Linked DNA regions of Homo sapiens: region 1 is linked to region 2. The links come from fine-mapping of genetic effects on gene expression. Tissue or cell type: fibroblasts. Region 2 holds a variant in brackets; the other region holds the start of a gene. All regions are shown on one strand. Distances are from middle to middle.

Evidence for each region. PIP is the estimated chance that this variant, and not a neighbour inherited with it, causes the effect.
Region 1: it holds the start of SGCD, and the variant in region 2 is fine-mapped to the expression of SGCD in fibroblasts (GTEx, PIP above 0.99).

What each region holds. Positions count from the first base shown.
Region 1 is chr5:156,324,533-156,329,867 of GRCh38, forward strand. SGCD (sarcoglycan delta) reads left to right here and starts at 2,632. Exons shown (of 9, transcript NM_000337.6): 1 at 2,632-2,700; 2 at 5,002-5,047. The coding sequence starts at 5,045. The region is part of intron 2 of LOC124901120 (a long non-coding RNA gene); the gene reads right to left.
Region 2 is chr5:156,183,916-156,189,296 of GRCh38, forward strand. It overlaps a transcript of SGCD not described here. Among named protein-coding and RNA genes, the nearest start is that of SGCD, 140 kb to the right of the region's middle. The variant A/G (reference allele first, on the strand shown) is at 3,047.

The DNA of each region.
Region 1 (5,335 bases), 140 kb after region 2:
TCTAGCTAGCAGTTATAAAGCTGGGTCTCAAACTGAGATCTCTCCAGATGCCCACATTGAAATGAGCCACATAACAAGTCTTTGGGGAGACATGAGGGCAGGGTCTCGTGAATCATATCAGCATTGTTTGATTAGGGCTGAGTATCAGCTTGAGTTTTTTTTAAATTGATTACCAGAACATTCAAGATTAACTTCTTCAACTATTTAAAACTTCTTTTTTTTTTTCCCTGAAAAGAAGCAGGGCATAAAACGTGAATAATAAACAATAAGCGGTTCATTAGCAATTTGCTACCACTGGCTCTCAAAGACTGTGGAACCCCACGTAGAAGTCTGATTCTTTAGAATTTGCAGCAGCTATTTTCTCTGAAAGATTTCTTCCTCAACTTGTGGGATTTTATTTTGCTATTATTGTTAATTTAGGACGTTGCCATTTCCAAACATGAACATTGTAATTGTTAATAGTCTTCTATTTATAGAATGATAATTTTGAGCTCTTAAGGTATAAAGCCCAGTTCTCTGGAATGACACTTTGTTCAGCCTCATGTAACTGACTGCAGATTTGATCTCACTGTTTTTCTTTTCTGTGAGTTAATCTCAAGGAAAGACTTCAGTGTTATATTTAGGGAATAAATGGAAAGTAGCGGTATAGCTGGCTTAATGTTCCAATAAGGCTTCAGGACAGTTCTCCAAGTTTAAGGTGACAGGCCCCTATTACATAAAGTTAAAGCAGCAGAAAACTAGCCACTCAAATACTTTATTCTAGAACTCACACTAGATGGGAGAGTACAATTTGGCTTTTAGGTTAGAGAAAAGGTTTGCATTTTGCTCCATTAAAAAAAAAAGTAAACTGAAATGTATTTATAGGCAGTCATAAACACTTTACACAGATTATCTCACTGAATCCTTAACAATTCTACCAGTAGATTCTATTATGGTTCCCATTTCACAGATGAGGAAACAGATCGAGAGAGGTTAAGCAAGCTGACCAGGGTTTATAGTCAGTAAGATGCAGAGCTAAGATTAGACCCAGGCTATCTGATTAGAAGGCTAGATGATATCACCTTCCCAAATTATGCTGCAGTAGAGAAAGCAGATAGAAAAAGAGAGCACCAATCCCATTTCTAGCTTCAGCTCTGGTATTAACTGTCTTTAAAACCCTGGACAAGTCATCTCATTTGTCTGGGCCTCTACTTCCCTCTGTAAAATGAAGGGTGGAAACAATTTGGATTGGATGATCTCTGGGGTGTCTCCAACTCCAAAGATCTGATTCTGTAATTGCATCTTGACCTTAGATGTGCACACACACCTCCCCACACCGCCTCCCACCCCACTGCTTCCCAAGGCGAAAATCTAATCCTGCTCAAAGTGCCCAGTGTAATTTGATGCTAAACTCACGACCCCACCGAATCCTATTACTTACAACATCCCCTCAAGAACATACAACACTTAAAATCTGGCAAGCCAGTTCTTTAGAATAAGTTGCCAATGGGGTGTGATTTTTGGAAGTAAAATGTTAATACCAAAAACAGAAAAAAGAAACAGTTCAAAACAAATGCTCCTCTCTCTTTAAATCACCTCTTTTCTACAATGTTACCTTGACAACTTTGCTCTGGCTCTTTAGATATGGGGGTTTTTCAGTGTGGGAGAAGAGGGGTGTCCTCCTGTTTTGAGGTTTCCTCTTGTTGCATGGAAAGGGAAAATGTCAAAGGTAGAGCATCAAATCCAGCAGAATGTACACAGGGCATCTTGAGGGAGTGTCATCCAGAAATAATCACAGGTGCACAGAATTAGGACGCATTCTGATTCAAAGTACATTCTTTTCTCTTTTCTATTTTCCATAACCATAACACACATTCCAACAGCCTATAAAATGTTACATTTTTGGACCAGCACTGTTGCAGAACAGAGAGCAACAAAAGTGCCTGAAAAATAATTGCATTATTTTTAGTTGCTGCAGCAAAAAATGTACATATCAGGTTGAGGGGACAGCTCCGAAGAACTGTACCAGTGTGGAAATGCTAAAAATATTGCTCCCCCTCAAGCAATTGAAATTTTGAGCAAAGATTTAGGAAGCGGCAGGTAGGGAGATCAAATTAGAATTTACATCTCTCAGCTGTAATAAGCTTGTTATCAGGACTGGCAAGAGCTCAGGGGGCTGACAGGGGTCAGCTGGGGACTCAAGTGTAAGGAGCAAGTGAAAAAGGAGCAGTGTTGAGCAGAAGAAAGAGAGGACTTATCTCCAGCATCTAGCACTACAGAGCAGAGGCTGTGTGGAGAATGGCTGAAAAATCAGAATTGGTTGTAGAAGCAGTTTTCTTTCTGGTTGTGAGTATGAGCCCGGCAGACACCATGAGCGCTGTTGCAGGGGAGTCGGCCTGTGCTTGACACATGTGTTTCCCATTGATAGCTGGAGACAGCCCAGTAGCTGTGAGTCGGTCTGACAAAGCCATATTGAAGTACGGAGTACGGTTTCAAAGCAGTCAGAAAAAGAACGGGAATGCTGTTCAGGAAATTCTTCAGGCATGGGCAGGGACTTGGCTGCAGTTCTGCAGTTGGAAAATCTGACTGGGGCAGCTTCTGAGCGCAGGCTGGGCCTGCACACACTCAGCGGGCCGAGTGGCCACCTCCTTCAGAGCTGCTCAGCACGCCCTGGGATCGCGGGCGGTTTTCATCGGCCGGTTTGTGAAACGGACAAGAGAGGTAGGGTACTGTTCAGTTCTTGCGTTTGCACGCGTCTGTTCACTTTCTAAGCTATCTGCCTGCTGTATTTGCAGGCACTCCGAGTTTTTAGTGTGTGCATGTGTGTGTGTGTGAATTAGCAAGTTAGAACTCCGTCATGTAAACAGTTGGCATGGGGCTCCAATCTGTGCTTTTCCCCCTTTAAGGTCTGATTTTCAGCAGGGCAGAGAGACTTCTTTTGAAAGTTAGGATTTAGCTGGCAACGTTATTGTGTAAAGAGGAGTATGTGAATTCCTTATGTTGTCACCCTGCTCCAACCATCTGTAACTTTTCCTTTCTGCGTGGAAGGGCCGTTCACTGGCAAGGAAGATAATTTCAGATGAAACTGTCTGTGTGTTTTGCTTCACTTCGCAAGAGTTTTAATGGGGAGTTTTTTGTTGTTGTTGTTTTTTAATAGTAGAAAATGGCTCTCATTTTAGGAGGGAATCAGAGTTTGAAGTTTCTACGTTGGATGACACTTTCAGAGTGTCGAAACAGATATGTGTGTATGGGTTTCTAAAATCTTTTATATAGGAGTTTGACTGTCATTATCTGGGATTTGACTGTCAGTGATATATTTGCCTAGAATTATGCTGGATCAACATTTGTAATTCTGTTTCTATAATCATTTCCAATTTTCTCACTTGAAGTAATTTGCAGTTTTACTCTCAAAAAACACTTCTGTATTTTAGGAAACATAGATAATAAAAAAGTAACAGAAAATGGCAGTTTACTCAAAATTCTTCTTAAAGGACAGAGACATGATGGTGTGAATTTTATTTCATTGATCTCTTGGTTTTATTTTACACCTTACTGCAAAAGAGCTTTTTATAAAAATCAAAGTTTTAAAAATTTTCAGCACAACAGGGATCTTAGTGTTCCTCTTCAGTTTTGGTTCTTCTTTATCAACTCTATTGCAGTATAGATTTTTTCCTCTCATAGGAAAGCTATACCTTGTTTTATGTACAGCATTTAGAAAACACACAGTACAATGTCATTGCATTTGAGAGACTGGTTCAGCCCAAAGCCGAGCTAAACCTTACAACTGCTTTACAATTACTAGCACAGCAATCTGTGACAACATTGGTTTTTTCCGAACGGGGCTTGGCCAAAAGTCTGGTTGGGGAGATGGATGAATGAATGGAATCTTGGATACTTCTTGAGTAGCTGAAGAGTGACTAGACCTCTTAGGGTGGATCTCTGTGACAACAGGTGTGCATTTACTTGTGTCCTACAATCTTTAAACAAGTAGCTAATAGAAGAGCCTGAAGTTAATGCTGAAAGAAAAGTGGAGAGCCAGCATTTCTCATTGCTTCCTCTGCATAAGACCTAGAATGAGAAGGCACACATTCTGTCCTGTTGGTAGAAGGTCAGGATTTTCAGCCAGCGATTTTCTTTTTTCTTCCAAGTGTTGTACTTGGAGGAGGGACCTGGGACAGGACTGGCAGCAGGATATCTTTAAGAGATGGTTCATGAACATTTTCTTTATTAGTTTCATCTTCGTGTTGGGGTGGTGTGGGGAGGGTTTGGGGACTGCAGGGCTTGAGGAAAGGAAGGGGGTGTAGTTAGAAGTCAGGATGGACTGTGACCTTATTTTTTTCTCTAAAGTGCCTAATGAGTGAGAAAAATGCCAAGACAGATTAGGAACTGGCATGAACCGTAGTCAAGCCCACTGCCAATGAAAAAGGGAGCCTTCCATGAGCTCGGGTGTCATACTCCTCTATATTTAGCGTGCGTCAAGCATTGAGCAGAAGAGGCGTGAAATAGCAACTCCAGGTTGCAGGATTATAAAGAGCAGTGCTTGAAACTTGGTAGAAACTCTATAGTTTCTCTCTTTTTTAGAAGTAAAGTAGGGAGAAGTCAAGCTCTCTTGACATCTGAAGAGAAAAAGTAAGCAGCGGAAGGGGGAAGGATACAGAGGAAGAAATCCAGGACAGAGGTGGAGGCAGTGAAGGGAGAGGAATGGCCACAACACAAACTGGGCAGTGAGGGTGGAGGGAGGAGCCCTTGGCACAGGAATGAAACACATGTATTAGAAATAGCCAAAGCCACCAGGCACTGATTTGTTGGACTGGAGGTGTGCAGATACTCAGTGGCCTTGGTGAAGAGAATTGTTTTAGCCACTTCACCACAGGAGACTGCATGGTCAGCCTGCCCTGCCTTCTGGAAGTAATCAGAAAGCACATTTTGTAAGAATGGCATTGCCTGAGGGTTCAGATTTCCTAGGCAAGGAGGGGGCAGGCTCTTCAGACCTTATTTTTAACCCATATTTGTTCCTTGCAGAGACATTACTGCCGGGAGTGTTGAGTGAAGGGACCAGGTGGAGATGGTGAGTAATTCCCGGGAGCGAAGCTTGTTCAAGGCCCTGCTCATGGTCATTTTATTATTAACATAAACTTTTGAAAAAGAGAACAAAGTGTTATATATGCCTTATCCTGATGAAGACATTTCTTTAATTTTACTTTTTTATTTTAAAAAATCTGCAGGCCAGGCACGGTGGCTCACGCCTGTAATCCCAGCACTTTGGGAGGCCGAGGCAGGTGGATCACGAGGTCAGGAGATGGAGACCATCCTGGCTAACACGGTGAAATCCCATCTATACTAAAAATACCAAAAA
Region 2 (5,381 bases):
AAACACAACAGCAAATACAGATGTACCTCAGCTTTCAGTAGGGTTACATTTTGACAAACACATCATCAGCTGAAAATATTGTAAGTTGAAATGTATTTAATATTCCTAACCTACCAAACATCATAGTTTAGCCTAGCCTACTGTAAACATCCTCAGAACACTTACAGTAGTCTACAGATGGGCCAAAATCATCTAACGTAAAGCCTGTTTTATAATAAAGTGTTGAATATCTCAAATAATTCATTGAATACTATACTGAAAGTGAAAAACATGATAGTATGGGTACTGGAAGTACGGTTTCTGCTGAATGCCTAACGCTTTCACACCATTAGAAAGTCAAAAAATCCTGTTGAACCATCATAAGATGGTGACCATCTGTCCTAGAAGCCACAACTAAAAGAACTGAAAATGTTATCCTGTGAAGTGGGGATATGAGGAAGGCTGACAAGCAGCCAGTTTTTTTTTTTTTTCATTGTAAGCCTTTTTATTAGCTTTTGGATTGTTAAATATATGCAAATAGTACTTGGATAAAATATTTTAAAAAATAATTTAAATAAGATGCTACCCCAATCTGTGCCCTCTCAAACTCCTGATATTGCAATATGCCCTCATATGTTTATTGATTGCTTCTTCCTTGTCCTGTCTTATATTTATGAGACTTCTTAAAACACCTAAAGTAAGGAGTGTATTTCTTAATGAGGCACAATTGATTCAATACAATTGATTTAATACAAACATAAAGAATATCAGTGGTTCCAAAGGTCACCCTACCACCACCTCCTTATTCCCTCCTGCTCTGCTAGTTTGATGGAGCAAGAGTTCATTCATTTTGCCTCTCAGCAGAAGACAAGGACCATGCCAAGATAAGGGCACAGGTGAAATAGTGAGGACCACCAGCCCAAGAGGAGCCAGTTATATCAAATATAACTAAATAACCCAGTGCTGCCTGCTGTTGCCCTGAAGCTGAGATTGGGTCTTGTATATTATTTATCTGGAGCAGCAAATTATAAAAACAATAATCTCACAAAGTAGACTGGGTTTAAGGTGACTATTCCAATATGCAATATTCCTGTGCCCCATTATGAGCCTTCAAAACACCATTCAAGGAACAATGATTCCTTATGGATGCTCACTTTTTACATTTCTTTCCTTTTAAGTCAGTCTCTGAGTTATTTGAATTCTAAAAATAATTGAAATGTTTGTGTTTTGGTTCTAAATGTTCCTTCAGTGGTGATGGTCAGGCAGTAAAATGACTGGCTTTGTTATACTGCATGCGTTTCTCCTTCCTTTAATTTTCTTTTTTTTTTTTTTTTTTTTGAGACAGAGTCTTGCTCTGTTGCCCAGGCTGGAGTGCAGTGGCACAATCTCGGCTCACTGTAAGCTCCGCCTCCCGGGTTCACACCATTCTCCTGTCTCAGCCTCCCGAGTAGCTGGGACTACAGGCGCCCGCCACCATGCCCGGCAAATTTTTTGTATTTTTAGCAGAGACGGGGTTTCACCACGTTAGCCAGGATGGTCTCGATCTCCTGACCTTGTGATCCGCCCGCCTTGGCCTCCCAAAGTGCTGGGATTACAGATGTGAGCCACCGCGCCTGGCCTCTTTTAATTTTTTTAATCCTCTGTATCCCCCTCCTTTTTTCAACTATGAATTGATTAACATCTTTTTCCCTTGATAAGAAATGAAAGACTACAGTTAGTTGTCTGATATGTACAAATTAACTTGAAGTTAAGGATAATCTGGCATCTGACTTTCCCCAAGGAAACCTTGCCAGAAACAGCGTGATTTATTTTTAACACTTTTCACAAAAACCCTCCCCTGTGGGACCTCAACAAATGTCACTTCTGTTGTGAGACTTTTAAAAACAGTGGGCTGTGATTTTTACAAACTTATAAATATGGCCATATATATGTGTGTGTGTATATATATATATATATAGAGAGAGAGAGAGAGAGAGAGAGAGAGAGAGAGAGGGCCATGTCTCCCATATGCTTTCTTTACTGTGTTCATAATTGCTCTGTTTCAGAACTCTTCAGGACTTGGGGTACTTTTGATCTGCACCAAAGATCTGTGATCGGAATAACGAAATATGGTAGAAGCATCCTGTATTAAATTATTCTAATTGGCCACTTTAATGTTTACTAGTGTCATTAGAAGACTTTCCTGGCAAAAAAAAAAATACCTATTTCCAACTTTGTGAGATTTCCTCTAATTTATTAATTTACAAAAACCTGTTGAACCCCTCTTATACCAGGACCTGAACTAAGGAGTGGATTATAATCAAGAGAAACATTCTGGTGCAAAGTGAAGGTAACATATTAATATAAACATGGGGTGACTTCTATATTGAGTTCTAACATATTGAGGTTGTGACTGGTGGGTAGTTGGGGGTGAAGATGGACTGGTTGTAATCTATGTTGATATCTGCTATGATACTGTTGTTGCCATATGGTCTGTTGTCCTTTGAAGATACCGCCAAATCATCCTTCATCCCTACCGTTCAAGTACAGCTTTCTCTCATATCTTCTAAAACCACTTTAGGACACATGAGATCATTCTCCTCCTCAAATATTAGCTAAAGAAAGCATCTATGGCACTCCTAAGACTTTATCTGGTTTTATGCTACTTTTGGGCAAATAGGTGATTGTATTGCTCCTGAGGCATTCTCTGCTTAGCTGCTTAATGCTCTCTCTGCTTACATACACGACTATATGCAACTATGAGTTTTTCCTGGAGTTATGCTGCTTTCTTGGGCTCTAGCCTGGAATTGATATTCTCTGCTGTCCTGTGTCTCCAAGCTAATCTGAACTTGTCACATCTGAACTTGTTTTAAGGCTCCCTTTTCTTCAAGACCCTGAAATCTCTGTTCACTCCTTGCCTCCCCTTTACTTTTCCTCCCAATAAGGAATTTTTATCCAATTTGCTATGTGAAGTATGGGAGTCAGCCAGATAGCTCTGCCTTTTACTCATCCAAAGTTTTCCCAAGTCAATGGCCTTTACTCATGAGTAATATTTGTTCTCTCCTAGGAGAATGTACTAAGTTTTGGA[A/G]ACTCAAAAGTCAAGAATGTACCTCTTTTTTTCTTTTCATGTTTTTTTTCTACCCTCTAGAAGCAATGAACATAGAAGGGCATCGTCAGTACTTTAATGAGGGAAAGGGGCAATGGGTAAAAGGGTGAGTATTTCAAAATATTTAATCTTACTAGATTAGTTCTACAACAAAACCCAGTATAAACAGGATAATAGAGATAATCATAAACCAAGTTAAATGACCACAGCAGAGAGGAAAAAGATCCTTCATTCTAGGGTGACTGAAGATGGCTTCATGGAGGGCATGGAGTTCTGCTTGGATAATGGGGAATGAATATGATTTCAATAGGATAATGGGAAATGGATATGATTTTAATAGCAGGTTTTTTGATGGAGGAGGGACCAAAAAGGCTTTCTCAGTAAAGAGAATTGCTGAACAAAGGCAAGCCATTTGAGAGGATCTAGGATGTGCAGGAAAACAGTTTTCTTTTGGCTAGAATGTTAAAAGCATTCTGAATAGACATATAGTCTCTAGCCCTCTAGAGGCTTCTGGATTTGAATCTTGAGTCTGACCTTACTAGCTGTGTGACCTTGGGTGAATTCCTTAACCTTTCTCTGCCACAGTTTCCTCATATGTAAACACGAATACTGATAGTACCTGTGGCATGATGTATGAGGATTAGGTGTGTTATAAATGGTAAGGTGCTTACAACAGTGTCTGGGGCTTAGAAAACACTGTTAGCTGCTGTTATAACTTTGTTAGGGAGAAGAGGGGAAAGCTAAGCTAAGGGAGAAAGGGTGGGAAAGACCTTGAATGAGATGAGGATGGAACTGGCCAGAGATGATGTAATGAAAATTCATCTTGGCAAAACTGCTTAATTTAAATCAGTGATTTTCCAACAAAATTCTGTGTAAGACTGACAAAGAAGCTCATTAGAAATGGAATTCCCAGGCTGCTCTCTCCTCCTAGTGATTGTGATCCAGGAGGTACAAGGTATGGTGAGAAATATGTGTTCTTAACAGTGAGGATTCTAAAAGCTAAGATTAGGGTGAGGCAGTGAGGTGCCTAGGGTGCAGAATTCAAGGAGGCTGTCATGTTCGGGGTCATGCTAGTGCAGGGGGGCCTAAGAGTAAGTGTTTCCTTACATTTTATGCCCCAGATGCCTTATTAGCCTTGCCCTGGTCTGAGCTTTGAGATTCTGATGCTGGTGGAGGAAGAAACTCATTCATTCTTTTACTCATTAGACATATTTCCTGAGCACCAGCTGTGTGCCTGGCGTTATTCCAGGTGCTTGGCATACATCATTAAAAACAACTGACAATGATCCTGCCCTTGTGGAGCTCATATTTTAGAGGGACAGTCAAAAAATAATAAACCTAATAACAAAGTAAATTATACATTAGTTAAAAGGTGATAAATACTGTGAGAAAAATAAAAGTAGAGCAGGATAAAGGTAGTGGCTAATACTCGAGATGCTTTGTTTTAAAGGAGGTCTCAGGCTAGTTCTAAGAGAATAATCTCCAGGACCTACTCAAATATAGCAGTAGTGGTGACCTGGAGTTTCCTGTGTTGCAAAAGGCTTCTGAGAGCCTTTCCTTCCTCAGCAGGAAGCATGTTACATGGGCCATTGGTAGTGTCTACTGTTGGGGTTCAAAGACAAATATCTACAAAATATGGCACTTTGACATGCTGAAGAAGCCTCAGTGTCTCTCTGACCACCCCAACCGCCCCCCCCGACACACATACACACAATCCCTCTCTACATGCACAAGATGAAGTTGAAGTTCCTTTATCTGCCCAAGATCCAGACCCACCAAAGAAAACAGTTCTATTTTCGCCTCCTTCTAAGACCGAGAGCGTAACCACATCTGAACAGACCCTTTTACAAATTAATATACAAATTAATCTCTGATCCATTCATTCTCCCTAGTAATTCCCTCAACAGAATTCCTCTTCTCCCCAACCCTATAACCTGTTTTGCTAGGATGGTGTATAAGCTTCTGCACCCTGTTGTAGAGTGGGTAATCACTCTGTGGTTTTCCCAGTGTACACATTACATAAATTTGTGTGCCTTTTCTCCAGTTAATCTGACTTTTAGGAGTTGATTTTTCAGTGAATCTTCAGAGGGCCAGGGGAAGCTTTCGCTTGACTCTCCACCACCATGGGTTCAGCCAGGAAGAAGAGGGTTATAATTTCCTTCTCTTTGCCTCCTTTAACATCCAACAAACCTAACATGTTACCTCTTCTGGCACCTGCCATTAATGCAGCTATGAAGAGTACGTGCTAGTGACACAGATGTTCTGTTTTTTTGGAGGCTGAAAACCTCTGGGGGTTGAAAATGATTCTGTGAGGAAA